Homo sapiens: one gene and its partners. The protein of the gene in region 1 purifies or fractionates together with the protein of each later gene. This does not show direct contact. Each region holds a gene or a part of one and is shown in the gene's direction. Other genes may lie near its edges.

Region 1 (3,882 bases):
ACATCTGGTGGGCTGCACTCTAAACCAACGGGGGCTGCTTCTTCCAGAGCTGCCTTAGAGCTTCTAGGGTAACAAAGACGTCCCTCAGGAGGATCCTGAGACTTACTTCCAGAACAGAGCTTCAGGGGTGCGTGAACAGGGTTTACCCTGGGGGAAAACCTAAGGGGGTTTCCCAGGAATTCCCTAAGCAGGCACAATCCCTGCCAGTTCCAAAAGGCATGTGTGCGGTTGTGTGGAAGGTTCTAGGGGGTGAGGGGCGTGTGGTTGTGTGGGAGGGTTCTGGAGAGTGAAAGGTGTGTGGTTGTGTGGAGAGCCCTGGAGACACTGGTATGTGGTTGTGTGGCAGGTTCTGGAGAGTGAGGGGTGTGTGAATATGTGGAAGGTTCTGGATAGCCTTGGAGGGGAGGTCTGGAAAGTGTTGGGTTGATGGATGGAGCTACCTGGTGCTATGGGGCCAGTTCGGGGGAATTATATGAGAAGATCTTGCACCTGCATCTTGGGCGAGCCTCCACCTGGCCTGTGATTAATGAATACCAGCCATGGCCAAGCCCCGTGCTGGGCGGTGAGCTCTGGGAGCCAGGTCTGTCCACATCCAGGGATTCAAGTTGTCCAGGCCCTGTGCACCTCCAGGGATTCGAGTCGCCCGGGCTCTGTGCACCTCTCCTGCACTGGGGCTTGGTTTGGTGAAGGCCAAGCTCACTGGGGAAGGAGTGGGACCTCGGCAGGTGGAGCCTCATCTAGTGGCTCCTTGGTGGCAGCAAGTCACCTGTGCCCCGCTCCAGGAAGAGTGTGGGCCTGTGCCGTGCTGGCCCTGCAGGGACACAGCTGTGGGTATAACAAGACAGGAACTAGGTACCAGGGGCTCAGGACAGCCCTGGGAGCTGGTGTGGGGAGGGACAAGGCAGGGCCAGAGGGGCCAGCAGTCCCCACACCGGTCGTCCTGGAACTCACTCCCTGCCACCTTCCAGCGACCACAGGGCACGGCACCTGTACTACTGCCACTTGAAGGAGCGCGTGCTGAGGTCACAGTGCGCTCACCGGGAGGAAGCCTACTTCCTGCTGGCTGCCTGCGCGCTGCAGGCTGACCTGGGCGAGCACCGGGAGTCGGCCCATGCCGGGAGGTACTTCGAGCCACACTCCTACTTCCCACAGTGGGTAAGGTCAGGGCCCACCTCCTCCCAGCACTGCTAGTCTGGTGCCTGTCCACCTCCACCGGGTGCCATCCATGGGAGCAGGGGACTGAGGGCCTGGCAGGGGCTGCTGGAGCAAGGGTCAGGGATGGAAACAGGGCAATCACCTGTCCTTCTGTCCTGAAGGCCCAAGGGTCCTTACCACCCCCAAAGGCAGGCAGTGTGGGAGGAGTGGCCCTGAGCAGGCAGGTGTGGGTGCCTGTGCTCCTGACGCACCCAGCCAGCTGTGTGGCCTTGCACTCTGGCTTCACCTCTCTGAGCCCCTTGGCTGCCTGGCTGTGGAATGTGACCCACACGGGCCTTGTGGCTGTGAACCTTCCTGCTTCTCTCTAAGTATCCTGGGACCCGTAGGAGTCTCTGAGCCTCAGCTTCCTCACCTGTAAGGGAAGGAGTGGCATCCCCCTGGGAGGAGGGCCATGGAGAGGCGTGGGCTGTACCACTGTGTGCCCAGTCCCAGGCGCTGTCTGGCCTGATGGCCGCGCGGATTGATGGCTGTCACCCCGGGGATGCAGGCCCTGTTCCGGGTGAACTTTAAGGTTTCTCTCCTTGACCGCTCATCCCTGTGTACCTCTCTATCCTGTGCACCTTGGGGCCTTCTCACCTTTGCTCTGAGGCAGTCGCTGAGGTCAGGGTGGGGCCCAGCCAGGCTTCCTCCCAGTGCTGTGGATGCCACACGTGCCCTTGGCCTCTGAGCACATTTCCACCCTCAGTGATTCCACGTCCCTGCGATTCTTACCCCGGTCCCGGTGATGGCCCCAGCTGGTCCTCACTGGGCAGGTTCCCAAGAGCCAGGGCTCGTTGGGAGTAGAGTCCCCACCTGCAGACGTCTGAGGAGGGCTGGCTGCTGCCATTCCCCTTGGGGAGGACCCGAGGGGGACAGGAAATCAGACAGGGCCCAGGGCCACAGTGGGCACTGAGACTTCATCTCTGGTTCTGGGCTCAGCAGCCAGGCCCTGGCCCTGCCCACCGAGGTTGGCACCAGCTGTGGGAGTCTGGGGAAGCTTCTCGGAGCAGGGGGCTGGCAAGGAGGAAGGGGGGACCAGCAGGGGTCTGAGCTGACCTCCCGGCTCTGTCCTCAGATCATCACCAAGAGGGGGATTGACTACATCCTCCGGCACATGCCTACCCTGCACCGTGAGCGCCAGGGCCTGAGCCCCAAGGAGGCCATGCTGTGCTTCATCCAGGAGGCCTGCCGGCTGGAGGACGTGCCCGTGCACTTCTTCAGGCTGCACAAGGTCGAGCCCAGGGCGGCCAGCGATGGGCTGGACTCTGACTCCAGGCCAGGGATGCACGGAGCCCCCATGGCTGAGTGGGATCAGGACCCCAGGGCAGGGATGGATGGAGCCCCCATGGCTAAGAGTGGGACCAGGACCCCGGGGCAGGGATAGATGGAGCCCCCATGGCTAAGAGTGGGATCAGGACCCCAGGCCAGGGACGGATGGAGCCCCCATGGCTAAGAGTGGTCAGGACCCCAGGGCAGGGATGGATGGAGCCCCCGTGGCTAAGAGTGGGACCAGGACCCCGGGGCAGGGATGGATGGAGCCCCCGTGGCTAAGAGTGGGATGGGACCAGGACCCCAGGGCAGGGATGGATGGAGCCCCCGTGGCTGAGTGGGACCAGGACCCCGGGCCCGGCATGGCCAGGCTCTCTTAGGTCGTGGCTGGTGTTTATCTGGCATGATGAAAGGCAGTGCTTGTGCTATGACAACTATGCCTTTGATCTGATGCTGGAGTGAATGAGACTGTCTGTAAATGGGCCCCAGAGCTCAGCCTGGTCCATGGAGCCCTCGGCCCCTAGCCAGACTGACCATACTCTGCCATCAGTGAGGCCCAGCACCTCCAGGCCTGCAACTTGACCTCTGACCTGTGTCCTCTAGGATAAGAAGGAAGGTCGTCCCACCGTGATCCTGGGACTGGCCCTCAGGGGAGTGCACATCTACCAGGTGACCGAAGGGGCTCCAGCCTCACAGAGCCCCTCGTCCTGCCCCCACCCCCTCCTCCCTTCCCCACTGGAGTCTGGGCTGTGTAGCATCCCTGCAGCGGTCATGGGCGCTGGCTGGCCCTGCCTGGACGCGCCCTGCCTCTGCTGTCCCGCAGGAGGTGGACCGTGCTCCGCAGCTGCTGTACGACCTCCCCTGGCCCCACGTTGGGAAGCTGGCATTTCTGGTGGGTGTCTGGGGGGTCCCCGTGCCCTGGAAAGCCTGGGCAGATGCAGCTTCATCCTCGGGGCATTTTCTGGACAATTCTGCACCCGAAGAGGTGCAGGTCCCTTCCTGCCGGCCTCTCGGGGGCATCAGGGCCGTCCTGGCCTCACGGGCTTTGTGCCTGGCCCTGGCCCTGCAGGCGTGGGGTGTTTAGCTGCCCGGTGAGGTCTAGTTGTTGTTATCGCTTGAAAACTTCTGGCTCCCAATTGAGAAAATCAAGGGAGAAAAGAAGAGCAGGTCATAGAAACGCACCTGTGTGGCCTCTGTTCCTCTCATCCCGGCCCCAGAGCTGTCACCCAGGGTCACCCCACAGCCCGGGTGCCGGGGATAAAAGGGCAGTGACTGTGGGGGCTGCTGGACAGCAGGCTTGCTCTGGACAGCCAGACCGAGGTCTTCCTGTCCCACCCCAGACCTCCACTCCCCTCACACTGCTGCGGGCACTTTCTAGCCAGGAGGGCTGTGTCCTCTCAAGCAAGGGCGGAGCAGAGC
Region 2 (4,540 bases), on another chromosome or scaffold:
CAGCAGAGAGAGAGTATTCATGCCCAGGACAGCCCAAGCCCAGTGCCAGGCTCTGAGCACTGCCCTCAAAGCCCCTCACCATCGTTTTGATTTCCTAGGTCCTTGCCTGTCCACCATGCCTCTGAGATCCAGGAACAGCGTGTTTACCCATTTTACAGATGAGGCAACTGAGGCCTGGGCCAACACCAGGTCTCGAGGTCACTGCATCATGCTCAGCACCCTGGGCTATGTTCCTGGGCTGGGACAAACTGCCTTCACAAGATTTCAGCACAGCCCTTGGCTCTGTGCTTCACAACTGGGGGAAGAGCGGGGCTCAGACGTTTGGAGAACCCGGTGTCAGGCAGCCAGGGAAGGAGGTGTGACAACCATTCAAGACCACAGGCAAGACTGCAGCAGGGGTCTAATGGTCTGGGCTCTTGGGGCCTGGCCATCACCTTCCTGCAGCCGCCCAGCTCTGTGCTGTAACAGTGGAGCCATGGTCAGTGTAGGAACAGCCAGCTCCTGGAGCCACTGGTCTTGTCCCACCGTTTGCTTGGTTGCATCATTTTGAGGACAGGCCCCCCAGGTCCTTGCTGAATTGCAGGTGGGTGAGCAGAAGGGCAGAGACCTATGGTGACCCTGAGCTCTGTGCCAGTCCTTCCCAGCCTGAGGCCAAGTGGGCACCCACCCGAGTTTCCTGTGCTGTTCCGGGTTGACACAGGCCCAATGCAGCAGGCGTTACAACCAACCCAAACATCAGTGGCCGAAGCAAAAACAGGATACTCAGGCCCAGGGACTCTCCCTCTCTGCTAACTGACCTCAGCCTGATATGGGTGGAAGGGTCTTCCCTGGTGGCCCAAATGCCTGGTTCCTGTCCTTGCAAGTATGGACAAGCCACCTCCCTCTCTGAACTTCAGCTTTCTCAACTGGAAAATGGAGCTCTGAAAACCTGCCTTACAGAGTTTTCATAAAGACTAACAGAAAAGTGCATCTAAAGTGCCCTTTAGGGACACCAAGCCCAGTGTCAGCACAAGCAGCTGCCAGGCATCTGCTGCACCTGCCGGGTGCAGACCCCTGGGGGCAGGACCCCTGGGAGGCTGTCTGACTCCTTGTGGGCCACAATTCTAGACCCATCTCGGTCCCTGTCTTGCTGAATGACCCCAGGCTGGTGGCTTCCCCTCTCTGAGCCTCAGTTTCCAAATGATGACGGAGTTAGACCGGATGGTCATTATGGGTCCTCCTGCCAGGACATTCTCCAATTCATTCATTCTCAGTCTTCTCCCAGTCCTCACCCACAAGGACCAAGGACCACCCCCTCGGTAGCTGCAGGCTCCATGAGGACCTGGTCTTAGTCTTGGCGGAAAGCCCTCTCCATAGCCATCCGTTTCAATTCAAGCATCCTGGGTGACCTTTGAGTTGGAAATCTCTCTCTCTGCTCATCCTGGAGAGGGGTTATTTTCCTTGGAGTGTCCTTGGATGATCCCAGAACCAAGGCTTGCTTCTGTGGGCAGCCTTCCATCCCATCTCCACCATATAATAGCCGCCACCATTCAGCAGAATCCCAGCAGACTGTGCAGTGGGGCAAGGATTTCATGAGCATCCTCCTCTAAACGCGTGAGTGGCGTGCTCCCCCCAGTGGCACCACACGTGGTGGTCTTTGGAAGGCTTTGGGGGCAAGAGGCAGAGGGGTGGGATTGCTTGGGTTAGCTAATATTTTGAATACAGCAGAGATAATCAATATATCTCTAAATGTGCTCTAAATGGCAAGTTCGTGATGAGTACTCACTAAAGATTCCATTTCCCTCTGGGCAATTCTTACTCCTGTTCTTCCCATGACTGTCCAGGTGTCAAGACAAATGGCAAATCAGAGTAAATTTAGAGATCTATAGATTATATTAAAATAAGTGTCAAACTAATGAACAATGCAGGGTCATGAGGTGGTCTCCATTGATTTGTTCATACTTATATTCAACAAAGATTTATTCGTTTACTGTACTGTACTAGGTGCAGGCTTTTTACTGGCGCCTGAGGATTCGACAGTGAAATAAGTCACAGTCCTTCCTCTAAGGAGTTCACAGCCTGGTAGGAAAGGTGGTCAAATCATCAGGGAAGTGTTATCCAAGACCTTGATCAGGATAATGAAGGCAGCAAGGTGGGACTCCTCCAACCTAGAATCTGGGAAGGGGCCTACAGTAGGCTTCACAGAGGGCATGATGTAGGAATTGACCTAAGTGGAAAAGTAAAGAAGAAGAAAAATATTTTAGGCAGAGAAGACAGCGTATGAAAAGGAACTTTGTGTCAAGAGTATGGGCTTGGAGTCAAGTCTGACTTTTCAAATCCCAGCTCCTCTGCTCACTGACTGTGTGTCTCCGGGCAAGTTGCTGTAGCTTTCTGACCTTGGCTGCCCATTTGTAAAATAGGAAATAACCACATCTATCTTAATGGAATGCTAAATGTTAAGAGTGATGGGAACTCACTGAAGAGTCCATTTCCCTCTGGGCAATTCTCACTCCTGTTCTTCCCATGACTGTCCAGGTGTCAAGACAAAAGATGCTTCAGCTTTGGAAACTTGTTCTCCTGTGCGGCGTGCTCACTGGGACCTCAGAGTCTCTTCTTGACAATCTTGGCAATGACCTAAGCAATGTCGTGGATAAGCTGGAACCTGTTCTTCACGAGGGACTTGAGACAGTTGACAATACTCTTAAAGGTAAATCAACAAGGGTGATGAACAGTGTCACCTAAATTAGCCTCCTAAACACTATGCCTGCATTACCAGAGGCTGCCACCAGGGGCTACTCTTTATGGGCGGTTTACTGAGAAAAGTGGCTATTCAATTCCTGACTCATTCGTTTATCTTTCTAGAAACAAGCAATGCCACAATGAATAGCCTTTTACATATTATATCCTGATAAACGTGCATAAGATAAATTCCTACAAGTGGGATTTCAAAAGTTCAAAAACTATGCTGTTGACAAATAATCTCCTATGTTAACACTTTCTCCAACAGTCTACGAAAGTGCCTTTTTTCCCACTCCTTTTCCAGCACTGGGTATGGACAACTTTAAATATTCTGCCTGTCTCACAGATGAAAAGCTATAACTTATTTCACTTTGCATTCCTCTAATTATGAAGGAGCCCTCTTCTTTTTTCATATATTTACTATGTACTTACATATTTTAACTTGAGGATTTTGTCTATATTCTTAGCATATTTTTCTTTTGGGTTGTTTAATATTCTTTTATGGACTTGTGTTAATTCAGTGAAAATTAAGGAAATTATCCCTACCTAGCCTTGGTATCTGTAAAGCTACCTACCTTTATATTTATTTATACCTCCTTTTTATGCTAACCTATTAAAATAACTTGGCTTTCTTTTTGTTTTATGGAAACATTAGCAGCACATCAAAAACAGTTTTTGTAGGAGGAGGTAACTTCTGCAAATGGCTGCCTTTCAAACCTTGTCAAGGGCTTAGGTAACTTTCAAAGATGCAGAAAGGACTCACACTCTAATTTCACAGCTGAGAAAACTGAGGCCCAGAGACAGAAATGTCTAAACCAAAGTCACCTCGTGAATTATACGATTAGACGTAGTTATATCACCAATTTTATTTAAAGTGTCATTCTCTGAATCATTATAACTAGGTAGATATTGTCCATTACAGAGCCAAGTTACAATATTATGATTACATCTCTTTTCTTATACGGTATAGTCTTTTGTTTTTCCTTAAGTTAGTAATTGCCCTGTTGTTTCTCACTTGAATTATTTTCTTCTCATATATACTTAATTATTTTCATGAGCATCATCCTGTATCTATCATGACATTTATTATTTTTTGAGACAAGGTCTCACTCTGTCACCCAAGCTAGAGTACACTGCCAGCCTCAACCTCCTGGGCTCAACTGATCCTCTCACCTCAGCCTCCCCAGTAGCCGGGACTACAGGTGCACACCACCACACCTGGCTAAGTTTTACATTTTTTGTAGCGGTGGAGTCTCACCATTTTGCCCAGGCTGGTCTCGAACTCCCGGCCTCAAGTGATCCTCCTGCCTTGGCCTCCCGAAGTACTGGGATTACAGGCGTGAGCCACCACACCCAGTCACGACATTTATTCCCATCCCCCTGTTCTCCAGAGACCTATCATAAAGACACTTTGTCCTCCTCCTCCTATAAGAATTATTGCTTTCTTTTGGTGCAACTGCTTTTGGTGTCATGAAGTCTTTGCCCGTGCCTATGTCCTGAATGGTATTGCCCAGGTTTTTTATGGTTTTGGGTTTTACATTTAAGTATTTAAACCATCTTGAGTTAAGTTTTTAATAAGGTGTAAGGAAGGGATCCAGTTCCAGTTTTCTGCATACATCTAGCCAGTTTTCCCAGCACCATTTATTAAATACAGAATCCTTTCCCCACTGCTTGTTTTTGTCAGGTTTGTTGAAGATCAGATGGTTGTAGACATGTGGTGTTATTTCTGAAGTTTCTGTTCTGTTCCATTGGTCTATATGTCTGTTTTGGTACCAGTACCATGCTGTTTTGCTTACTGTATCCTTGTAGTATAGTTTGAAGC
Region 3 (3,882 bases), on another chromosome or scaffold:
GCTCACGCCTATAATCCCAGCACTTTGGGAGGCTGGGGCAGGCAGATCACCTGAGGTTAGGAGTTCAAGACCAGCCTTGCTAACATGGCAAAACCCATCTCTACCAAAAAATACAAAAATTAGCTGGGCATGGTGGCACATGCCTTGTAATCCCAGCTACTCAGGAAGCTGAGGCAGGAGAATCACTTGAACCCAGGAGGCAGAGGTTGCAGTGAGCCAAGATCGTGCCACTGCGCTCCAGCCTGGGCGACAGAGCGAGACTTCATCTCAAAAAAAAAAAAACAACCGTATTGGTCTTACAAATGGACTTGGCAGCTTTGGCTGATGTTTCTGTTGTGCACACAAAATGGTCCTTTAAGGAAAACCTGAAAATTTATTCTAGAATTTTAAGATAATCCATCAGAAAAAACAAACAAAATTCTTCCTGAAATTTCTAAACAATACTTTGGTTTTGAATATTTAGGCTTTCCTTTCATAAATTTGATTGGTTGATTTATATCTTTTAAAAAATATGTCTTTAGGGCAGCTTTGTAATATAAAAAATATTTCCACCTATAATTCTTTACTTTAATGTAACTGTTTTCTTTTCTTTTCTTTTTTTTTTTTTTTTTTTTTGAGACAGTCTCATTCTGTCACCCAGGTTGGAGTGCATGGTGTGATCTCAGTTCACTGCAGCCTCCGTCTCCTCGGTTCAAGCAATTCTCCTGCCTCAGCTTCCTGAGTAGCTGGAATTATAGGTGTGCACCAGCATGTCTGGCTAATTTTTGTATTTTCAGTAGAGACGGGGTCTCCCCATATTGGCCAGGCTGGTCTTGAACTCCTGACCTCAAACGATCTGCCCACCCCAGCCTCCCAAAGTGCTGGGATTACAAGTGTGAGCCACCACACCCAGCCTAATGTAACTGTTTTCCTTTCCTTTTAGTCTTTATCTCATTGTTATATGTGATTATAATGTTGTCATTTATGCAGTTGTATGTTCTATTTTAAACCTTAAAATTTGTTACTTACCAACTTTTTGAATATGCCTGACTGAAATGATTCATACTGTAGCATGTGTGACTCAGGGTAGTGAAAGGGGGTTTGTTTTGAATAGCAAGATGAGCATCAGACTAGTCTTCCAACCAGAAAACATTCCATGCAACTTGAGACACAGATGAAACAGCAAATTTCTTCTTGGCTTGGGGTTGGATAAAGGGTGGATTGACTTATGTAGTGTTTGCTAAAATGACAAATGGTGAGATGCTAAAAGCACTTTGAGCTTTAGGGAGTTCAAAGTGGCCAGGCAAATTAAAGTTATGTGACCTATCTGAGAATATAGCATAGTTCTTTGTGAGAAAAGAAAGTGAGATATTTGTGCTTTGTTGGAAATAAAAAAGATTTTAAAAACTCAAGGCTGGGCACAGTGGTTCACACCTGTAATCTCAGCACTTTGGGAGGCTGAGGCGCAGATCGCTTGAGCTCAGGAGTTCAAGACCAACCTGGGCAACATGGCAAAACCCCATCTCTACCAAAAAAAAAAAACCCAAAAAAGAATGAAAATTAGCTGGGCGTAGTGGCTCACACCTGTAGTATCAGCTACTTGGGTGGCTGAGGTGGGAGGACCACTTGAGCCTGGGAGGTTGAGACTACAGTGAACCTTAATTGCACCACTGCACTCCAGGCTGGGCAACAGCACAAGACCTTGTCTCAGAAAAAAAAAAAAAACCACAAACAAACAGAAAAACTTTTATCAAAAATACCTACTGCTCATGCTGGGTGTGGTGGCTCACACCTGTAATCCCAGCACTTTGGGAGTCTGAGGCAGGTGGATCACTTGAGGTCAGCAGTTCAAGACCAGCCCGGCCAACATGGTGAAACCCCATCTCTACTAAAAATACAAAAATTAGCCGGGCGTGGTGGTGCGTGCCTGTAATCCCAGCTACTCGGGAGGCTGAGGCAGGAGAATTCACTTGAACCCAGGAGGCAGAGGTTGCAGTGAGCCGAGCTCGTGCCATTGCACTCCAGCATGGGTGACAGAGTGAGACTGCATCTCAATCAATCAATCAATAAACCTGCTGCTCAGATAGGGTAAGAAATAAAAACAGCATAATCATCTGAAAGAAACGAAATTGTGTATCTTTTAGACTTCAGACAAAGTAAATATTCAACATCTGATAACTGTTAAGGACACAAACTTGAGCATATTTGTGTTGAGTTCTTTTATAACTCTAAAATATGCTAGAATTCTATGGAGGATTGATTCTGAGTTTACAGACCCTTGAAGACATCAGGAGTCTGTGTACCTACAGTGGTAATATATTAATATGTGTGAGTCCCTAGTTAACCGTTTACACCTGGAATGCCAGGCAAAGTAGACAATGTCAGAGACACAGAGGAACAACCTGTGCAATGGATGGAAATGCAGTAGATGGACATATGCTCTTGTGTGTTTGGAACCTTCACAGGAAAGAAGCAGAACACAAAGTGGAAAGTGCAGACGAGGCAAAGGACCTGTGGAAGGTTTGTTTCTAAACCTCAAACCTCAAAGATCTTTTTTTTTTTTTTTTTTTTTAATTGAGACAGAGTCTTGCTTTGTCGCCCAAGCTGGAGTGCAGTGGGGCGATCTCAGCTCACTGCAACCTCCGCCTCCTGGGTTCAAGCCGTTCTCCTGCCTCAGTCTCTGGAGTAGCTGGGGCTACAGGCGCCCACCACCACACCCGGATAATTTTTGTATTTTTAGTACAGATGGGGTTTTGCCATCTTGGCCAGGCTGATCTCAAACTCCTGACCTCAAGCGATCCTCCTGCCTTGGACTCCCAAGGGCTGGGATTACAGGTGTGAGCCACTGCGCCGAGCTTAAAGATCATTCTCGAAACTCACTTTAGCAAACTTGGGTATTTCAGTTAGGATTAGGTTCAATTGTAACAGATCATCAAACAAACAAACACAAAAAAACCAGGAACTTAAAGATAGAGTTTTTGGGTTTTTTTTTTTTTCCTTACATGAAAGAAGTCTGAAGCTAGGTAACTGAGAGCTGGCATGGCAGTTCTGTGATCACCAGAGACCTAAGCTCCCTCTTTCTTTTGGTGTCATCATCTTTAGTGCTGGCTTCCACCATCAGGTTTGCCTTAGGGCTGCTGAGTGATCGCTGCTGTTCTAGCTGTCACATCTGTGCTCCAAGCAGGAAGAAGGACAAGGCCAAAGGACATATTTCCTGGTAGAATCCACCCCCTGTACCCTAAAGGGCTTTCCTGGAAACCCCACCCACTTATCGGATACCCCTATCTGTAAAGGACATTGCCTTCACTTATAACATGGAGACTAGATATTGGATAGGCAAACCTTGGTCTTTGCCATACCAAGTGATCGATCATATTCCTAAAGGTATTTCTTAGACTTAGGTTGCTAAGACTTCGGGATATCTACAGACTCAGAACAGGACAGTAATAATGTTTGGTGAACCTGGCTTTTCGTTTCCTGCTTAATTGATTAATTCAACAGTATTTAGGACTTACCACATGCTAGGCACTGGAGCTACGATAGTAAGCAAAATAGACCCAGTCCCTGCCCTCAAAGAGTTTACAGACCCATGGGGGAAAGAAAGGTTTTAAAGAAGTGGATTATAAATATGTTGAACCTTAAGAAGAGGGAAGTAAAGTGTGCTTGGTTGGGGCTGTGTGATAGGAAAGGCTCTATAAGGATATGTCATAACATATACATTGAAACTTAAAGGATGCTTAGGAGTTAGCCAGGTCAGAATGGCAGGGATGGAGGTGTCAGAGGAGAGCAAGAGGGGGAGGAGTGCCCCAGGTCGACTCACTCCCAGTCTGATAATTTCCATTACAATTCCTTTTTCTTCCATTATTTGTCTTAATTCTTCATCAGAGGGAATCAGTGGGAATG
Region 4 (4,545 bases), on another chromosome or scaffold:
GGTGGCAATCAGCCTAAGTAGGATTCTGAGTCTGGATAATTCTTTGAAGCAAGTCAATTAGGGCTTGAGGCTTTTCAGTGTAAGATGGAGTGTTATTTTTCCAGTTGAGTAGTTCAGCAGAGGTAAAAGGGTGATACACAAAAGCATGCCTTTCTACCGTATGTCTGACCTCATCTGTCCTAGTATATCGCTGCTCTCTCAGGGCATTTGAATTCCCGTCTTGGGCCGTTAAGCGGGCTGCCAGGGAAGTGGATTTTCCCGCAGTTTCACTTTTGTTCTTGTCTACTCTGGGTGGTCTAGGGGCTGTGGGCTCAGGAGAAGGGGGCCTCCCCACTGGATAAGGGGTTGAGGGCACTGTTGGTGCCATCTCCTGCCTTGAGTCCTCGAGCTCTGGGTCAAACAGAACTTTAGGTGCTGGCTTCTCTTGGCCGGTGGAGCGAGAACTTTCCTGAAATAAATGTCCCTTTGCTACTACTACTGCTGCTGCCTGTCCTTTTACCACTGTAGAGGATCTAAAACTAGCTGTAACTAGGAATCTCTATATGGAAATTGATATGGGTGCAGGCACACCATGAGCGATCAGGCCAAGCTTCCGCTCAGGTGGAGTGGGGCAAGTTGAAAAGACTTGTCTTACTAAGTTTCAGATGTCTGGACTCCAAGTGCCAGTTCCTTCCTGGTGTTCAGCCACTGTGTTAATCCTCCGCGGGGATCACTGCTCTGGCGAGGCGTTCAACCGGGGCCATTTCCTACCTGGGAGCGCTCTTTGGATCCCATCCCTCAGGCTGGCCAGAGTCCCTGGCAGCCTGAGGGATGCCCCGGCCTTACTCCACAAGGCATGCCTAATCTGCCTAAGGAGCTGCCTCGGCCGTCCATCAGTTATCTTGCTTCCAGGTCAGGGAACCAAGAAATGTAGCAGGACAAGCGGCAGACAAAACTCTCAGACACCGAGTTGTAGAAGGAAGGGTGTTATTCACCTGGGAGCATCGGATAGCTACTGTCTCAAAATCCGAGCTCCCCAAGTGCACAATTTCTGTCCCTTTTAAGGGCACACAGCACTAAAGATGTCACATGAAAGGGTCGTGATTGATTTGAACAAGCCAGGGATATGCGACAAGGACTACATGCACCCGTGGTCAGGGAGAAACAGAATATGGAAGGGAGTTTCACAATGTTCTTCTATACAATGTCTGGAATCTATGAATAACATCGGCTTCTAAATCATAAGTTGATTTGTAACTACTGGGTTTAGGCCAACCAGGCCCAGGCCTGGTTTTGTGCCTTTGATTTTGCTTCCTTGTTGTTTTTACTGAATAGAAAACAATATAAAACAAGAGGACAGGGTCTTTCTCTCTTCTCAATATCAGCACTGGATTGTAGAACTTGTTGCTGATTTTGGCCTGGCATTCAAGTTAACTCTTCCCCTTGGTATCTGTACATACCTTTGATGTCAGTGTTTAGTACACGTGGCTTGGTCACTTCATGGCTAAAAACGTGCTTGTGGAAGACAAGTCTGGCTTGGTGAGTCTGTGTGGTCAGCAGTCTCTGATCCGTGCAGGGTATTAATGTGTCAGGGCTGAGTGTTCTGAGATTTATCTAGAGGCTGGGAAGGGCTCCTGAACCAGTTGTTTCCGTCTTGTCGGTCTGTCAGGGTTGGAAAGTCCAAGCCATAGGACCCAGTTTCCTTTCTTAGCTTACGTTATCTACCAGAGCACCGTGGGCTGTTACTTGCCTTGAGTTGGAAGCGGTTCGCATTTATACCGGTAAATGTATTCATCCTTTTAATTTATGTAAAGTTTTTTAGTATGCAATTCTCGATCTTTTAAGAGTTGACAACAAATTTTGGTTTTCTGCTGTTATGTGAGAACATTAGGCCACAGCAACATGTCATTGTGTAAGGAAAAATAAAAGTGCTACCATATGCAAAAAAAAAAAAAAAAAGAAAAGAAAAGAAACATTAATGTCTAAGAGGTCATTGAGATGATTTCCATGAGAGACTTTTTGATGTTCTTCACCAGTTAGGATTATTATTGATAATCCTTTTCAGATTATGAATAAACAGTTTGCCCTCAAGTATTTATTCATGCTACTATTTACATTGTAAAATGTGCTTCTTACAGGAATATAAATAGTTTCTGGAAAGGACACTGACAACTTCAAAGCAAAATGAAGCTCTTTTGGTTGCTTTTCACCATTGGGTTCTGCTGGGCTCAGTATTCCTCAAATACACAACAAGGACGAACATCTATTGTTCATCTGTTTGAATGGCGATGGGTTGATATTGCTCTTGAATGTGAGCGATATTTAGCTCCCAAGGGATTTGGAGGGGTTCAGGTGGGTATGATTCATAGTATCAATTGCAGAATTCACTGTGCTTGTAGTAAACACTATTCTGATCTTCTACGTGAAGCTTGGGCAACATTTTACTTCACAGGTAAGTATTCTAAGTAAAAGAATTTTCTGAGGAAAAAACAATGTAGTATTCTTTGCAACTGTATATTTTGTTTCTGATATAATCTTTCTTCAACAAGAGCCCTCCGATGTGCTGTTAATATTTTCAAGAGATAGCTGCCTATACCAAGATTCAAGAATCTTTTGTATTATTGATTAGATTCTAGAACATTCAATGATATACAGTAAGACAGAATTTGGTACTTATGAAGACTGTTTAATTTGTAGGTCTCTCCACCAAATGAAAATGTTGCCATTCACAACCCTTTCAGACCTTGGTGGGAAAGATACCAACCAGTTAGCTATAAATTATGCACAAGATCTGGAAATGAAGATGAATTTAGAAACATGGTGACTAGATGCAACAATGTTGGGGTAAGTGAATTCTAGTTTCCTTTAAAAATAACAGATAGGAAAATGATTTCTGTCTCTTCTTTCTTGCTCCTTTTGAGCAGAAAGTTTTCCATATCAGTTTTAATTTTACTTCATACTTTAAAACTCAAAAGTAACTGTCACCTTATGTTCAATTTTTGAAAATATTTGTATATGTGCTCTCTACTAAAGAGATAAGTTAAAGTTTATAGCAGAGTTTACTTCTGAAGCAAAACATCAAATTTTAACCGCTATAACTATCCATATTTCCTGGAAGGATTTTCTGGTGAGGAATTTTAATTCCAGTTACAATATTTGCTCTCATTTTTAGATGACTTGTGTCTCCATTCCTAATTCTTGGGTTTTTTTTGTGGTGAATAGGTAGCTTATCTATTTAATGAGGAGCAGAATTTGAGATGAATAGCTACCTTATTTGTCTTCCAAGCTTAGTAGAGAGTACAGGCTTTCTCCTGGTGACCCACTGAAATTTCCCAAATAGTAACCTTTTCAGTCTCATCTGAGTTGTGTCTCCCCAAAATGGGCTTTTTGCCTTTCCTCCTATTTATGGTAGTTTCCGGTTCTCTCAGTTTATCATTCCTATATATATTTGGCCAAGTGTCTGGAATGAATGTAGGTGTTTAGTTCACATTACTTTCCTTTCACAGTTGATTTTTGATCTTGTAGGAAAATAGTTATAAGGTATGAAATATTTTGGAATTTTATTAGCACACTATAAATTTAATCAATAATTCTTTAAATTTCTGCCTCTCTGTAAGTCACACTGAATTAGAAACTTTGTTTTCTAGGTTCGTATTTATGTGGATGCTGTAATTAATCATATGTGTGGTAATGCTGTGAGTGCAGGAACAAGCAGTACCTGTGGAAGTTACTTCAACCCTGGAAGTAGGGACTTTCCAGCAGTCCCATATTCTGGATGGGATTTTAATGATGGTAAATGTAAAACTGGAAGTGGAGATATCGAGAACTATAATGATGCTACTCAGGTAATTTTTTTACGAGAGTGATCTGAATAAGGAGTGATATATGCCTTTTGTTGTAGACATGTAGCTAATTGAACTTCGTTGTAAATATGAATTTAGATCTCTTAGGGACAGAGGTTAACAAGTTTGACTACTTTAAGAAACTCAAATCCATATTTGAAAACCTTTAAATATTGATTTAAGATTTTTAATCAATACACATTTGTCCACTTTTAAAAAGCTCCCAACCAATTGAAAAACTCATCGACTTTATTTCCTAAGTTCTCTATTTTCTATTAGAAAATATTTCCAAGATACATCTATAGTAGAATGTGAGCATCCCCAGTGTCCAATGCAAGGAAGTCACCATAGAATATCTCTTGAGGAATCATGGAATAAATGAATAATCAAATGGATTCTCAGGCGAAAAGTGAGGTTTTATTAATCAATCATAACATTCTTACCTCAACAGGTCAGAGATTGTCGTCTGTCTGGTCTTCTCGATCTTGCACTGGGGAAGGATTATGTGCGTTCTAAGATTGCCGAATATATGAACCATCTCATTGACATTGGTGTTGCAGGGTTCAGAATTGATGCTTCCAAGCACATGTGGCCTGGAGACATAAAGGCAATTTTGGACAAACTGCATAATCTAAACAGTAACTGGTTCCCGGAAGGTAGTAAACCTTTCATTTACCAGGAGGTACGTCAATACATATAGGCATATAAAATATCATCCTATTCA
Region 5 (3,882 bases), on another chromosome or scaffold:
GCCTCAGGGGCCCCCATTATTGTGCTTGTTTTATGTCGGAGGACACTGAGGCTCAGAGAGGGGGAGAGGCATGCCTGAGGTCACACAGCAAGTGAGCGGCCAGAGCCTGGGACCTTTCCATCCCCTGCACCACTTGACAATACACACTAGCTATTAGCACACTCTTTGGGGAGGGATTTTGGGTGGATCAGACTGGCTGTGAGGACCTCGGAGACCCACCCCTCCTAGCAGAGATGAGGGAAAGGAAGCCAGGGAGGGCCTGGGACCCACCAATAGCCAGCTCTCGCAGGCCAGGCCGCTCCCTTCTGCATAAAGGCTGATGGCAGCTCCCGCCTCCAGAGCACTTATGTGTGCTGAGCATTGTTCAGGCCCTTTCCATAGATCATTTCGTTTGATCCTCACAGTATCCTACCAGGTAGGTGTTAAGTATTTCCTGCATTTTACAGGAGCGCAAATGGAGGCCCAGAGCAGTTAAGTGACTTGCCTAAGGCCACCGGCTGACAAATGGTGTAACCACATTCAGGCCCAGGCAGCCCGACTAATCCCATGGCTTGCAAATCCCCCTAGACGATGTCTGCACCTTCCCAATGTGAGCGGGGCTTGCTGAGGTGTTGAGCATCTTGGAGGCTTAGAAGAATGCAACGTATGCATCAAGACTGAGCTTTCTCCCCAGAGAGGGATGTGGCTGCGTAAACCCATTCACACTTGTGTCGCATGATCACCACGTGTGACTCACGACCCCTCACTGTCCTTACAGGCAGGGGATGCTCACAGCTTATTGAAGGGGAAATGGAAGCCCAGAGGCTTTGGGAACACAGAGGCCACCCTCCCACCTCCCCCCCAGGGAGCTGGTTCAGCAAGGTTGGGCTGTGGCTTGGATCGACATTTTTGCAAATCAAGGAACTATAGGTGCCTATGGAGCACTGTTGAGTTGTTTAGAGGGGAAACGGAGGCCCAGAGTCAGGAAGGGATTTTATTAGGTGTGTCACAGAAAATTGGACCCAAAGCATGAAGCAGACCCAGGATCCCAGCTCTACCCCCTAACCCAACCTTTACTGGGCTTAGAGTGGCCACGAAGCCAGCTGGCCAAGGTCATGGCCAAGTCTGGCTTTTGCAACGCCCTCTCTGTCTCACGCGCCACATTCTTGGCCATTTCCAAACCTTGAGATAAATGACCCTCTCTTTTGAGACTCAATTTCCTCATCTATGGGGCCAGTTATGCCAGCACTGTGTCTGGCAGATGGCAGGGCATCGAATGGAATTGATTGGCCTCCTGGCTGAGGATAGAGACTTCTCTTCCCAGACGTGCGACTGTGCTGAGTGACGGGACTTAATATGTTTGGGAGCCCAGGAACTCTTTCTGTGTTTCTCCCTCAGCACCTCCCACGCGCTGCTGGTCCTGGTGCAGAAGCACATTAAAGCTGTCTTGAGTAACAAGGTAAAGGGCTTGCAGATTTCTCAGAAAGGAGGGCATGGCTTCACCGAGAAGGCACAGTGAAGAAAGAGTGGGATTTCAGGCAGGGGGTACTTTGCTTGGGATTAAAAAAAAAAAAAAGACGCCCCTTCATGGTCCCCATGAAGGCAGGGAAAAGGCTGGTGCCAGGTCCAGGGGAGTGATGGGGAGGCACAAATGAGGGCAGAGTTTATGGGGTTGGAGGGGAGGGGGAGGTTCATCCTCTTAGGGCAGCCCCAATTTCATGCTAGAGGGTGGATGGAGTGGGGTTCATGGGCCTGTGGTTTGTGAAAAGAAGACAGAACGAGAGTGAACGAGGGTGTGGGCATGGGGCCACCTGTGGCCTGGACGGGTCCTGGTCCTTTCCAGATGTGCAGTCTCTGCTCCTGGTTCCACATCTGTACTGAAAGAGACAAAGCCCCTCCTCCGTGGGGTGGTTGCAGGCATGAAATGCATTAACATTTCAGAAGAGTTCGGGACAGTGGTTGGCAGAGTGGGTGCTGCTATTATTATTACTATTTTAGCTCTTGTCATTGTCTGCGTGGAGCTGACTTGGTGAGAGAGGGTAGCCCAGGGGCTAGGGTCCCACTGCCCAGGGGGAGCTCATTTTCTCTCTGCCCTATCCCATCCCAACCCCACTACTGCTTTAAGGGGCAGTAGTAGAGACGAAGTCAACCTCCTGCATGCCACCCCACACCCCCCAGAGGGCGACTGCAACATGCCCACCTTACAGATGAGAAAACCGAGGCTCGAGGGGTGAAGGTGGGGCAGCTCCTCTTGAGAGTCCTGCGGGATGCCCAAGTGGACAGCTTAACTTTGTCTGTTGGTCCAGCCTCTTCCTCTCCCTGTAGTCCCCCTGCTGCCCTCATAGCCAGCCTCTTCTGGGCAAGGGGCTTCAGGCAGCACTGCAGGAAGGAAGACCCACCCTCTCCTCTTCCTCTCGACCTCGCCCTGCCCAGTCTCGCCAGCTCTTGCCTGGTTAAGGCTGCGAGTGCCCCTGGCCTTGCAGTTCCTCCTCTGCCCCCATCTTCTATCACACTGATCCCAACATAATGTACTTCTCTGGCTGCCCATGGTGCCCAGGGAAAACCTCTGTAGCTCCCTGGCCTGGCATCTGAAGCTTGGCCTGGTCTGGCTTGCTGATCACTGCCTGCCTCTGCATGGGCACCACCCTCTCACCAGCTGAGCTTCAAGACTGAGCTCTCAGCCCCGTTGCAGCAGATTCCCTGCCTCCGTTGCTCAGGCCCAGCTACGACCACCTGGGCTGGGCTCCACGGCCTCTGTTCTTTCTTCCGTGCCTGGGGACCTATGCTCACACTGCCATCAGCCTTTGGGTTGCTTCTCCTCTGTTTCTTCGGTGCCTGGAAGGGGTCCCAGGAGATGCCCACTGGCGGGTGGAGGAAGGGATTCCAGGCATGGTGTATGGGTTGGGGAGGCTTCTAGACAGGGACTCTAGACCCCTCTCAGCCTTGTGCCCTCCAGCCCCAGGGCTGCCCTAACCCCAGCCTCCTTCTCTCTGTCTTACCACAGCTGTGCCTGAGCATCTCCAACCTGGTGCAGGGTGTCAATGTCCACCTGGGCACCTTAATTGGTAAGATCTGGGAGCCAGGGGAGGGGGCTGGGGCCTCTGGGACCCCCTGGAGCCCCTAGAACCCTCCAAAGGCTCCACTCTGGATCACGGTCGACCTCTAGGAGAGTCAGTTGTAGGGTGACTGAATTGTGAGCTCCCAAAACAGTGTAATTATTCATGAAATCTGGGAATCTCCAAATTCTAGAACCAAAACCAAGTCTTTGATTCTAGAATCTGTGTATCTTAGATCAAAAAATCTGAAAAACAAAATACAATTTTGAAATCATGAGTCTTAACATTGGAGAATCCAAGGACCATTGACACTTAGAATCTGGAATCATTCTAGAATCTAGACTCATCATTCCAAAGACCAGCTCTTGCCTCGGCCTCCCAAAGTGCTGGGATCACAGGCATGAGCCACCACCCCTGGCCTCGCCCTTTGAAACTTCCCTGCAAGAGTATTCTGAGGCTCAGAGGAGTTGGGCTCTGAGCCATGCCTCCCTGAAGGCTGCTCGGAGGGTCTGTTAGGGAAGCTGGACTTCTGTGATCTTGCATAACTGGCCCCAGTGGTGTGTGCTCTTGGAGTTCTCATAGGAGACAGTGTGATGAGGTGGGAAGAGCATAGCTTTGGGGTCAGACTGACCAGGTATTACAATCCTGGGCAAGACTGAACCTCACCAGACTGCGTGTGCGTGTGTGCGTACGTGTGAGTGTGCATGTGTGCATACGTGTGTATAAAATAACCCTACAGGATTGTAACGAGGATTGAATGAGATGCTGTAAGTCAAGCATCTGGACCTTGATAAGTGAGAGTTCTCTTCTTTTTCTGTGGTTGCTTCTCACCTTTGTCAGGGGATAT
Region 6 (3,882 bases), on another chromosome or scaffold:
TCTGGAATTTAATTTAATCCAAATCATTTTATAAATGAATAAGCCGACATCCAGGCACATTAAGTGACTTGACCAAAGTCACTCAGCTATTCAGTGGCAGACACAGGACAGAGCCAAACCTCCACTGCTGGTCTGTTGCAGCATGTTTCATACATGTTCCTATAAGATCTGGACATTCTTTGCAACATCCTCAGAGACCATCTGGAAAGGGAAAGACCGAGATCATGGAATGTGAGGCCCTCAATCCTGCTTCAGTCAGAGCAGGTCCTTAATTATGTGGATTGCATATTCAATCTCCAGGGAAAGATCTGTTTGAACAATATGACCTGTTCTATTTTATATGAGAAAACAACTACCCCTGTAATGGAAAGGATCTCCTCAGAGATTCCTGGAGTCAGTGTTACCGATTCTGAAAACCTATGCCCTTTTAAGAGAGATTTATGGAAAAATACCAAAGTCATGTGAGTATCAGAAGCCATTATGTTAGCTATTGGTTGTTCTCAGTTGTGAATTAAAATTTCCTGGACAATTTAATTTTCTAAACAAATAATACTTTCTTGTATTGATGGATGTTGTGGAGAATGTCCAGATCTTAGAGGAACATATTTGAAACACACTGCAACAGACCAGCAGTGGAGGTTTTAGTCTGTCCTATGTCTGGCATTGAATAATTGAATGACTTTGGGCAAGTCACTTAATATGCCTGGATCTCAGTTTATTCATTTATGAAATGATTCGGATTAAATTAAATTCCAGATCCAAAATCTAATTCTATGACCTCTTTGCTTTGAAATAGTTATGTGGTTCATTCCCTCAATCACATGAGCCTCACGATGGTCCCTGTTTCATTCACCTCTGAAAGCCCAGTACCTAGAAGCTATTTTTGAGGTTGGATATATTAGTCTCTGAGGAAGTTATCTTAGTTAAACAACTCAGCTAGTCTCTCAGAAGTTGTCACTTCATCTGCACTAAACTTTGTGTCCAAAGAAAGCTTTATAACTTGCGACTGGAATGATTTACCCATTTGGTCATCTAAAAAGGGCTTCTGTGAACATCATTAGGAAGAAAACGTAACCTATCCTTGTTTGGGATGTTCTCATTTATCCTGTTATATTTCTTTTCTCCAATTTAATATAACTGATCACTAAAAAATGTAGTATGAGATTGAATACAGGGAAGAGGGATATAAAAGGCATGAAGTATGTTTACAGATAAGAAACTGAAACAGTGATGGTACTCTAACTCAAATAATGTCAGCAATGGCTAAAGGAAATAAAAATATCTTGCAAAATGATGACCCACATGGCATAGAAGTTATTTTCAAATTTTGAAAGACTTCTGGATCTTCTGTAAATCTGCCAAAACAAAATTAGGACCAAAGGATGGAAATCTTCATGAAGAAAATTCTACTCAGTTAAGAATGAAAATCCCAAAAAACAAACCTACATTCAGTGTCAAGAACTCTCTACCAGGCGGCCTTAGGAATTACAGTAGTGAGTTCCTAATCAGAAGAGGTTAGATGCATAGACTAGAAAGCCTTTCAGCAGGTGTATTGATAAAAGATCAAGTATCAGATGTACAGTTGGACTGGATCAGTGTTCTTTTCAGATGTAAACACCTTTCAGAAATCATGAAAACCATTGGTGCTCTATCCAGACAAAATGCATAAACATGCAAATTTTCTCTAAAAATCAGATGACTCATGAACCCCCGAATCATGAATTCTATAATTCTAATTTTTTAAACAATAAAGTTAAAAGGTAATGACCAAAGTTGTTTCTCCAATTTATAAAGGCTAAAAACTGTTTCCTGAAATATGGAGAACATGAAGCCGGGGTGGGATATTTTGTTTGTTGGGGCTTTGTTGTTGTTTGGCTGTTTCGTATTTTGATGATGGTAGATATGAGGGGTGTAATCTAGAAAGGGCTCCTGGATCTCAGTTGAATGTCTTTGACTAAAGTTTTGTGAACAGGCTGAGCAAGCAGGAAGCTTTTGTGATGGGACCTCAGGCAGTAACTTGACCATTTTCCACCAGAGGAAGAAGAGAGGAACTGTAAGCACAAAAGTTCGTATCCAGCTAAGCATTCAAGCTAGAACCCACAGGAATATATTCATCCCAGCTATCTAGAGAGTAGACATTTGACAAAAGAAAACTCTCTAGTAGCAATTCTTTCTTGAAACTTGGTGAAATTAGGAAGATAATCACTTGACTCAATAATGTACTCTGGTTTCTAATCCCAGCATTCCACAAATACCGCTCATCTCATGGTCAGCAGTGATCACCTGATTGATAAATGGATACTTTTTTCATTTCTTACATTTTCTTTCTTTTCTGCAGTTCAGTGAAGGTCGAGAAAGGGATCATGAACTACGTCACAGAAGGCATCATCACCAATCACCCAAATCTCACTTTGAATTACCACATTATCCTGGACTGCTAGCTCACCAGAAGCCGTTCATTAGAAAGTCCTATAAATGTCTGCACAAACGCTGTAGGCCTAAGCTTCCACCTTCACCTAATAACCCCCCCAAATTCCCAAATCCTCACCAGCCACCTAAACATCCAGATAAAAATAGCAGTGTGGTCAACCCTACCTTAGTGGCTACAACCCAAATTCCATCTGTGACTTTCCCATCAGCTTCCACCAAAATTACTACCCTTCCAAATGTGACTTTTCTTCCCCAGAATGCCACCACCATATCTTCAAGAGAAAATGTTAACACAAGCTCTTCTGTAGCTACATTAGCACCAGTGAATTCCCCAGCTCCACAAGACACCACAGCTGCCCCACCCACACCTTCTGCAACTACACCAGCTCCACCATCTTCCTCAGCTCCACCAGAGACCACAGCTGCCCCACCCACACCTTCTGCAACTACACAAGCTCCACCATCTTCCTCAGCTCCACCAGAGACCACAGCTGCCCCACCCACACCTCCTGCAACTACACCAGCTCCACCATCTTCCTCAGCTCCACCAGAGACCACAGCTGCCCCACCCACACCTTCTGCAACTACACCAGCTCCACTATCTTCCTCAGCTCCACCAGAGACCACAGCTGTCCCACCCACACCTTCTGCAACTACCCTAGACCCATCATCCGCCTCAGCTCCACCAGAGACCACAGCTGCCCCACCCACACCTTCTGCAACTACACCAGCTCCACCGTCTTCCCCAGCTCCACAAGAGACCACAGCTGCCCCAATTACCACACCTAATTCTTCCCCAACTACTCTTGCACCTGACACTTCTGAAACTTCAGCTGCACCCACACACCAGACTACTACTTCGGTCACTACTCAAACTACTACTACTAAACAACCAACTTCAGCTCCTGGCCAAAATAAAATTTCTCGATTTCTTTTATATATGAAGAATCTACTAAACAGAATTATTGACGACATGGTGGAGCAATAGTATATTGTATGTTGTAAAGTGTTCTGTCATTTACAAGATGTGATTCATGAGTGCAGAACTACCACCTTTCTTTTAGCACCAATCCCAACATGAAATTATATTACTCAGATTTAAAGCACTATCATTAATCTTTCAATCTAATTATTCACCACCACAAGACCTATTAACAAGACAAAATGCCTCTATCCCACAAGCCAGATGCAGGTCTGGGGTTCAAAATAACTCTTTGGATCCTACAGAGATAGCCTACTGAGGGCAAAGAAAGTCCTTAGATAAAGAGAGAATATTGTATGGGCCATCAACCATTTACTTTTCCCTGAATGTTAGAAACTACAAAACCACTACCTTGTACCCCCATCAAAATCCCACCTGAACCATCTAATCCTATAAACATAAAGGGGTAAAATTGGAACTCTCCAGATGAACAAAGACATCTAAATATCTGTAGATAGAAACATTTATCT
Region 7 (4,659 bases), on another chromosome or scaffold:
TGTACACTTAAAAATAGTTAAAATGATAGATTTTATGTTATGTATATTTTACCACAATTTAAAAAGAAACAAAAACAAAATTTTGTTCACAAGATGTTTTTTCTAACTCCTAGACTACACAGTCCTTTCTGCTTAAAATACTCTGTGATTGGCCTGGCGCGGTGGCTCACGCCTGTAATCCCAGCACTTTGGGAGCTGAGGCAGGAGGATCACGAGGTCAGGAGATCAAAACCATCCTGACTAACACGTGAAACCCCATCTCTACTAAAACTACAAAAATTAGCCGGGCGAGTTGGCGGGAGCCTGTAATCTCAGCTACTCGGGAAGCTGAGGCAGGAGAATCACTTGAACCCGGAAGGCGGAGCTTGCAGTGAGCCGAGATCGCGCCATTGCACTCCGGCCTGGGCAACACAAAGAGACGCAGTCTCAAGTAAGTAAGTAAGTAAATAAATAAATAAATAAATAAGAATAATGTTTCATTTTCTGTACTACTCGGGAGCCTGAGGCAGGAGACAGCCTCCTCAATTCAGGAGAATTGCTTGAACCCGGGAGGCAGAGGTTGCAGTGAGCCGAGATCGCGCCACTGCTCTCCAGTCTGAGCGACAGAGCGAGACCCCGATTCAAAAAAAAAACTGTGATTAAGTGGTTTCTAAAACCTAATGTGTAATACTTGCAAAGATAAAATTGCTCTTCTACCAAACCTTTCTTTCAATATTTCTGAAACTGTAAAAAGTACTTTAAATTCTAATGTTATAAGCAAAGTAGCTAAAATGGGGCTGGTAATTTTTCCCCTCTGCTTTATCTTGGGTTAGAGTCGAAGTATTTAAGCACTTCCGAGTATGTAACAGCAAGCAGGTTCACCACACTGGGGAAAATGTCTTGAGTAATGAAAAGAGCACCAAGATAATCTACCTTATTAGGCAATCTAGGCTTTTTTGAAAGTTATAAATGAAAAGAAATACAGTATAAAAGATGTCATTTGAGTATTATCAGAGTAATTTTGCAACGCATTATTTATATATTTCAAATATTCAAGGCACCATATAACTGTTCAATTTTATTTCTTTTTTTTTTTTTATTCAAAGCCTACATTCATAGTTGCTTAATGGGATGTTTTTCTTCTTCATATTTTTAGTGCCTTTCAATAAAATATATCATTGCTTAACATCTACATTTTGCTTAACTTTAGATCTACCCACACATACTCAGGCTGAAAATAAATGCTCTTTTACAAGTTAGATTTTGGGGGATTTTGTACGTTTTGCTTTGCTTTTCGGTTTTCATTGTAACCATAGTCAACTAGATTCAGCCATAAGACATCAACACTGACAAAGTGTAGTCCGGACTAGCTTTTGCACTTCCACATCATGATTAATTTATTATTCATCTGGTACCTTCCTATTAAACTTTGTCTTTAGCCTGTGAACTTTTCTTTCAGCTTCCAACAAAGGATTTCATTGCTTTAGGAATCGAGGTGTGGCTAAGTTTTTACCTGGGAGCAAAGGTGATGCAAGCGTTTCTGGTGAGACCTACCCTTGGTTTAGGGTGGGGAGGGACCGCATAACAGACCATCTGTAGACTCCTTCGGAAAGCAGCAGAGACGCTGCAGAGGGCTTTTCTTAGACATCAACTGCAGACGGCTGGCAGGATAGAAGCAGCGGCTCACTTGGACTTTTTCACCAGGGAAATCAGAGACAATGATGGGGCTCTTCCCCAGAACTACAGGGGCTCTGGCCATCTTCGTGGTAAGTCCTGGATTTTCCTAATAATCACAAACTTCCCTGCTTCCTCCCTTGTTAAAGAATATTATATTTGATTGCACAATCTTTATTATAAATTCTAAAAGGAGTGCAGTGGAAATCAACACTTTGAAATGAAATCGTGAAGATTACCAATTTCCTTCTTTTGTTGTTTTTTATGTTGTATTTTACATAGAAAAATAAACCAGAAAGAAATGAGTTTTAAAAACCATTTAGAATTTTTTTTAGTTAATGAATTAAGTAATCTTAATCACAGGTTATATTTTCCACAACATTTTCACTTTCTTTAAAGTTATGCTTTTACTAGTTTTTCTAACCCACAAACAAGAACACAGGAGCCACTTCTATTTTCCAAGATTACATGTCTCTTAGCATATAGCTAAGAACTCTACACGCCTGGGCTTGATACCTGACACGCTTTTAAAAGTAAAAAATCGCAGAATTAAAATCAAAGCAGTGTTTGACTCTAGAGAAGTTGGGAGGATTATTAAGTAAGTATTTATGTTTAGCTATTATGTGCCAAAAGAAAATGTCAGCCTTTGGGGATGGGGGGAAAGACATACAACATTTTAAAGCCATTTTTTTCAGAAAAGTAATACTTCTGTTGATTGAGAAAGTCGTACATAGTATTATCTAAAAGAGAAACGGAATGTTACAGACTGTTTAAAACCTGGATGTTACAGACTAACTTACTCCTTAACTGTGTTCTTATAGCAAAAAAAAAAAAAGAAAAGTCACAATATTATCTGTTACACGGAGATATCAAAATAGTTAAATATACCTTAAAAATGAATGTCAAAACAATTCCTAATGCTAATTTGTATGGTTTCCATGATAAGCTGGGTTGGCCTAGGCATCAATTTACCTCATTTCTTCATGAAAAAAATTGAGATAAATGGACTTCAAGAAGTCACAGGGAGATAGATCTCAAGAAAGGACTTTCTTAGCTCTCCCTAAGATTTTTGTTTTTGTTTTTGTTTTTGAGACAAGGTCTGGCTCTGTTGCCCAGGCTGGAGTGCAGTGGTGCGATCTCCAACTTCTGCCTCTGGGGTTCAAGTGATTCTCGTGCCTCAGCCTCCTGAGTAGCTGAGATTACAGGCGTGCACCACCACAGCCAGCTAATTTTTTTGTATTGTTAGTAGAGATGGGGTTTTGCCATGTTGACCAGTCTAGTCTCAAACTCCTAGCCTCAATGGATCCGTCCACCTCGGCCTCCCATAATGCTGGGATTGCAGATGTGAGCCACTGCACCCAGCCTCTAAGATTCTATTTCTATTACGACAATGTAACTGTGTTCAGTACCTGATTTTATTTGAAAGGAGGATGTTGTTAAAGAGAAATGTGACAGTTGTATGACTTTCCCACCTTTCCAGATGGGAAATGTCTGGGCTGAACCCCAGGTGGTCTGATAACCCCTATGTCCAAGCCAATGGCAAAGCTCAGGAAGTTAGGGGCCATGCAGCATGGGCTGTCGGGATAGTATTGCCATGAGGACATAGGATTGGGCCACCATAAGCTAAGGGGGATTCTTTTTTTTTTCTAATTTGACATATAGGACACTCTCAATTACTCCTCTGATTCTGGAGTGACTGTGACATCCTTATATTGAGGCTAATTTTTATTTTTATATTCTCAATGCTTATTATATCTGTCTTAGAGTGGACATGCAATTGTTTGAAGAATGAGTAAATGAATGATTTAATGAGCCTTCTCTAAACTAAAAAACCCCCGCACAATGTCCCTATAATTCTAGTCATAAAGGAAACTATGAAATGACATGTATTTGGTTCCACTCAAGAAAATTTTACATACACATGCTGTTTAAACAACAGTATAACTTCATACATAATTGTTCAACTGAGTGGTCTAGACCTACTCTGTCCCATATGGTAGCCACCAGCCACATGTGGTTTTAAGCCACTTGAAATGTGGTTGGTCTGAGTTGAGGTGTGCTATTTAATATAAAATATACATCATAATTTGAAGAAGACTTTGAATGAACAAAAGAATGTAAAATATGTCAATAATTTTTTATGTTGATTACATGTTGAAATGATAGTATTTTGGATGTATTAGATTAAGTTAACCGTATTGTTAAAATGCATTTCACCTTTTAAAAACGTTTTAAATGTGACTAAATTTTTTAATTATATGTGGTTCGCATTTGTGGTTTTTAGCTTTCTATTGGACAGTACTGGTCTACTATTAATGCTATTGATAGAAGGCAGTGTCAGTCAGGAGAGAGGCAATCAAGTCTTTATGGATTCAGTGAAATTTGAGCTGATTTGGGATAAGTATAGATGGACGGGCCAAAAGGAGATCTCTTGGGTTGTCAGAAGAGTATAATCAAAGGCAGGCACAGTTAGGATTTGCCTAGGGGAAATGGACACACCAGTATGACTAGCATGACAGTTTGCTTTGGAGAATCTGGACATGAATTGGAAAGGCAGCTGAGGGTCAGATTGAAAAGTGCATTTTGTGAAGGCTCATGGAAACCTTTTACAAGTGGGGAGCCACCCAGAGTTTTGAAATAATGTGGTCATGGGGGGGAAAAGCAATGTTTTCTAAAGCATTCTCAAGTGGGAATGCTCATTTTTTGTTGTTGCAGGGTGGGTTCTGAAAGTTGGCAGATGTGTTTGAAGGTTTTGTAATAATCCACCATCCAATGACCATACATGGGTTGCCCAGAACAGTGAGAAATAATAGCAAAGTCATAGACTTAAATCTCTGGCTATGCCACTGACTCACTACAGGCTTTGTTTCCTCAACTGTCAAATAAGAATCACACCCCACCCCCTGCCTAATGAAAATGGTCATAGTGAGAATAAAGCAGCAATGCATGCAAAACAATTAAAAAGTGCTGTGAGAAAGATGAAGTGATTTGTAAACCCTTTAATTT

Evidence for each region.
Region 2: the proteins of FRMD1 (region 1) and BPIFA2 purify together in Homo sapiens (affinity purification with mass spectrometry; 2 studies listed by BioGRID and IntAct, with this or other methods). This does not show direct contact.
Region 3: the proteins of FRMD1 (region 1) and DSTYK purify together in Homo sapiens (affinity purification with mass spectrometry; 2 studies listed by BioGRID and IntAct, with this or other methods). This does not show direct contact.
Region 4: the proteins of FRMD1 (region 1) and AMY1C purify together in Homo sapiens (affinity purification with mass spectrometry, with the first as the bait; 2 studies listed by BioGRID). This does not show direct contact.
Region 5: the proteins of FRMD1 (region 1) and BPIFB2 purify together in Homo sapiens (affinity purification with mass spectrometry; 2 studies listed by BioGRID and IntAct, with this or other methods). This does not show direct contact.
Region 6: the proteins of FRMD1 (region 1) and MUC7 purify together in Homo sapiens (affinity purification with mass spectrometry; 2 studies listed by BioGRID and IntAct, with this or other methods). This does not show direct contact.
Region 7: the proteins of FRMD1 (region 1) and DSG3 purify together in Homo sapiens (affinity purification with mass spectrometry; 2 studies listed by BioGRID and IntAct, with this or other methods). This does not show direct contact.

Annotation. Positions count from the first base shown.
Region 1 is NC_000006.12:168,062,144-168,066,025, reverse strand, and holds part of FRMD1 (FERM domain-containing protein 1), read left to right. Parts: exon of another isoform or gene 1-968; coding exon 969-1,155; intron 1,156-2,269; coding exon 2,270-2,425; intron 2,426-3,066; coding exon 3,067-3,132; intron 3,133-3,286; coding exon of another isoform or gene 3,287-3,355; intron 3,356-3,882.
Region 2 is NC_000020.11:33,166,617-33,171,156, forward strand, and holds the start of BPIFA2 (BPI fold-containing family A member 2 precursor), read left to right. Parts: upstream 1-1,542; 5' UTR 1,543-1,593; intron 1,594-2,514; 5' UTR 2,515-2,529; coding exon 2,530-2,686; intron 2,687-4,540. UniProt on the Homo sapiens protein: Has strong antibacterial activity against P.aeruginosa.
Region 3 is NC_000001.11:205,170,124-205,174,005, reverse strand, and holds part of DSTYK (dual serine/threonine and tyrosine protein kinase), read left to right. Parts: intron 1-2,444; coding exon of another isoform or gene 2,445-2,499; intron 2,500-3,882. UniProt on the Homo sapiens protein: Acts as a positive regulator of ERK phosphorylation downstream of fibroblast growth factor-receptor activation. Involved in the regulation of both caspase-dependent apoptosis and caspase-independent cell death.
Region 4 is NC_000001.11:103,748,307-103,752,851, forward strand, and holds the start of AMY1C (alpha-amylase 1C precursor), read left to right. Parts: upstream 1-1,591; 5' UTR 1,592-1,760; intron 1,761-2,117; 5' UTR 2,118-2,163; coding exon 2,164-2,331; intron 2,332-2,676; coding exon 2,677-2,823; intron 2,824-3,626; coding exon 3,627-3,824; intron 3,825-4,272; coding exon 4,273-4,503; intron 4,504-4,545. UniProt on the Homo sapiens protein: Calcium-binding enzyme that initiates starch digestion in the oral cavity.
Region 5 is NC_000020.11:33,014,059-33,017,940, forward strand, and holds part of BPIFB2 (BPI fold-containing family B member 2 precursor), read left to right. Parts: intron 1-1,377; coding exon 1,378-1,438; intron 1,439-2,983; coding exon 2,984-3,044; intron 3,045-3,882.
Region 6 is NC_000004.12:70,478,461-70,482,342, forward strand, and holds part of MUC7 (mucin-7 precursor), read left to right. Parts: intron 1-2,338; coding exon 2,339-3,418; 3' UTR 3,419-3,882. UniProt on the Homo sapiens protein: May function in a protective capacity by promoting the clearance of bacteria in the oral cavity and aiding in mastication, speech, and swallowing. Binds P.aeruginosa pili.
Region 7 is NC_000018.10:31,446,181-31,450,839, forward strand, and holds the start of DSG3 (desmoglein-3 preproprotein), read left to right. Parts: upstream 1-1,560; 5' UTR 1,561-1,697; coding exon 1,698-1,745; intron 1,746-4,659. UniProt on the Homo sapiens protein: A component of desmosome cell-cell junctions which are required for positive regulation of cellular adhesion. Required for adherens and desmosome junction assembly in response to mechanical force in keratinocytes.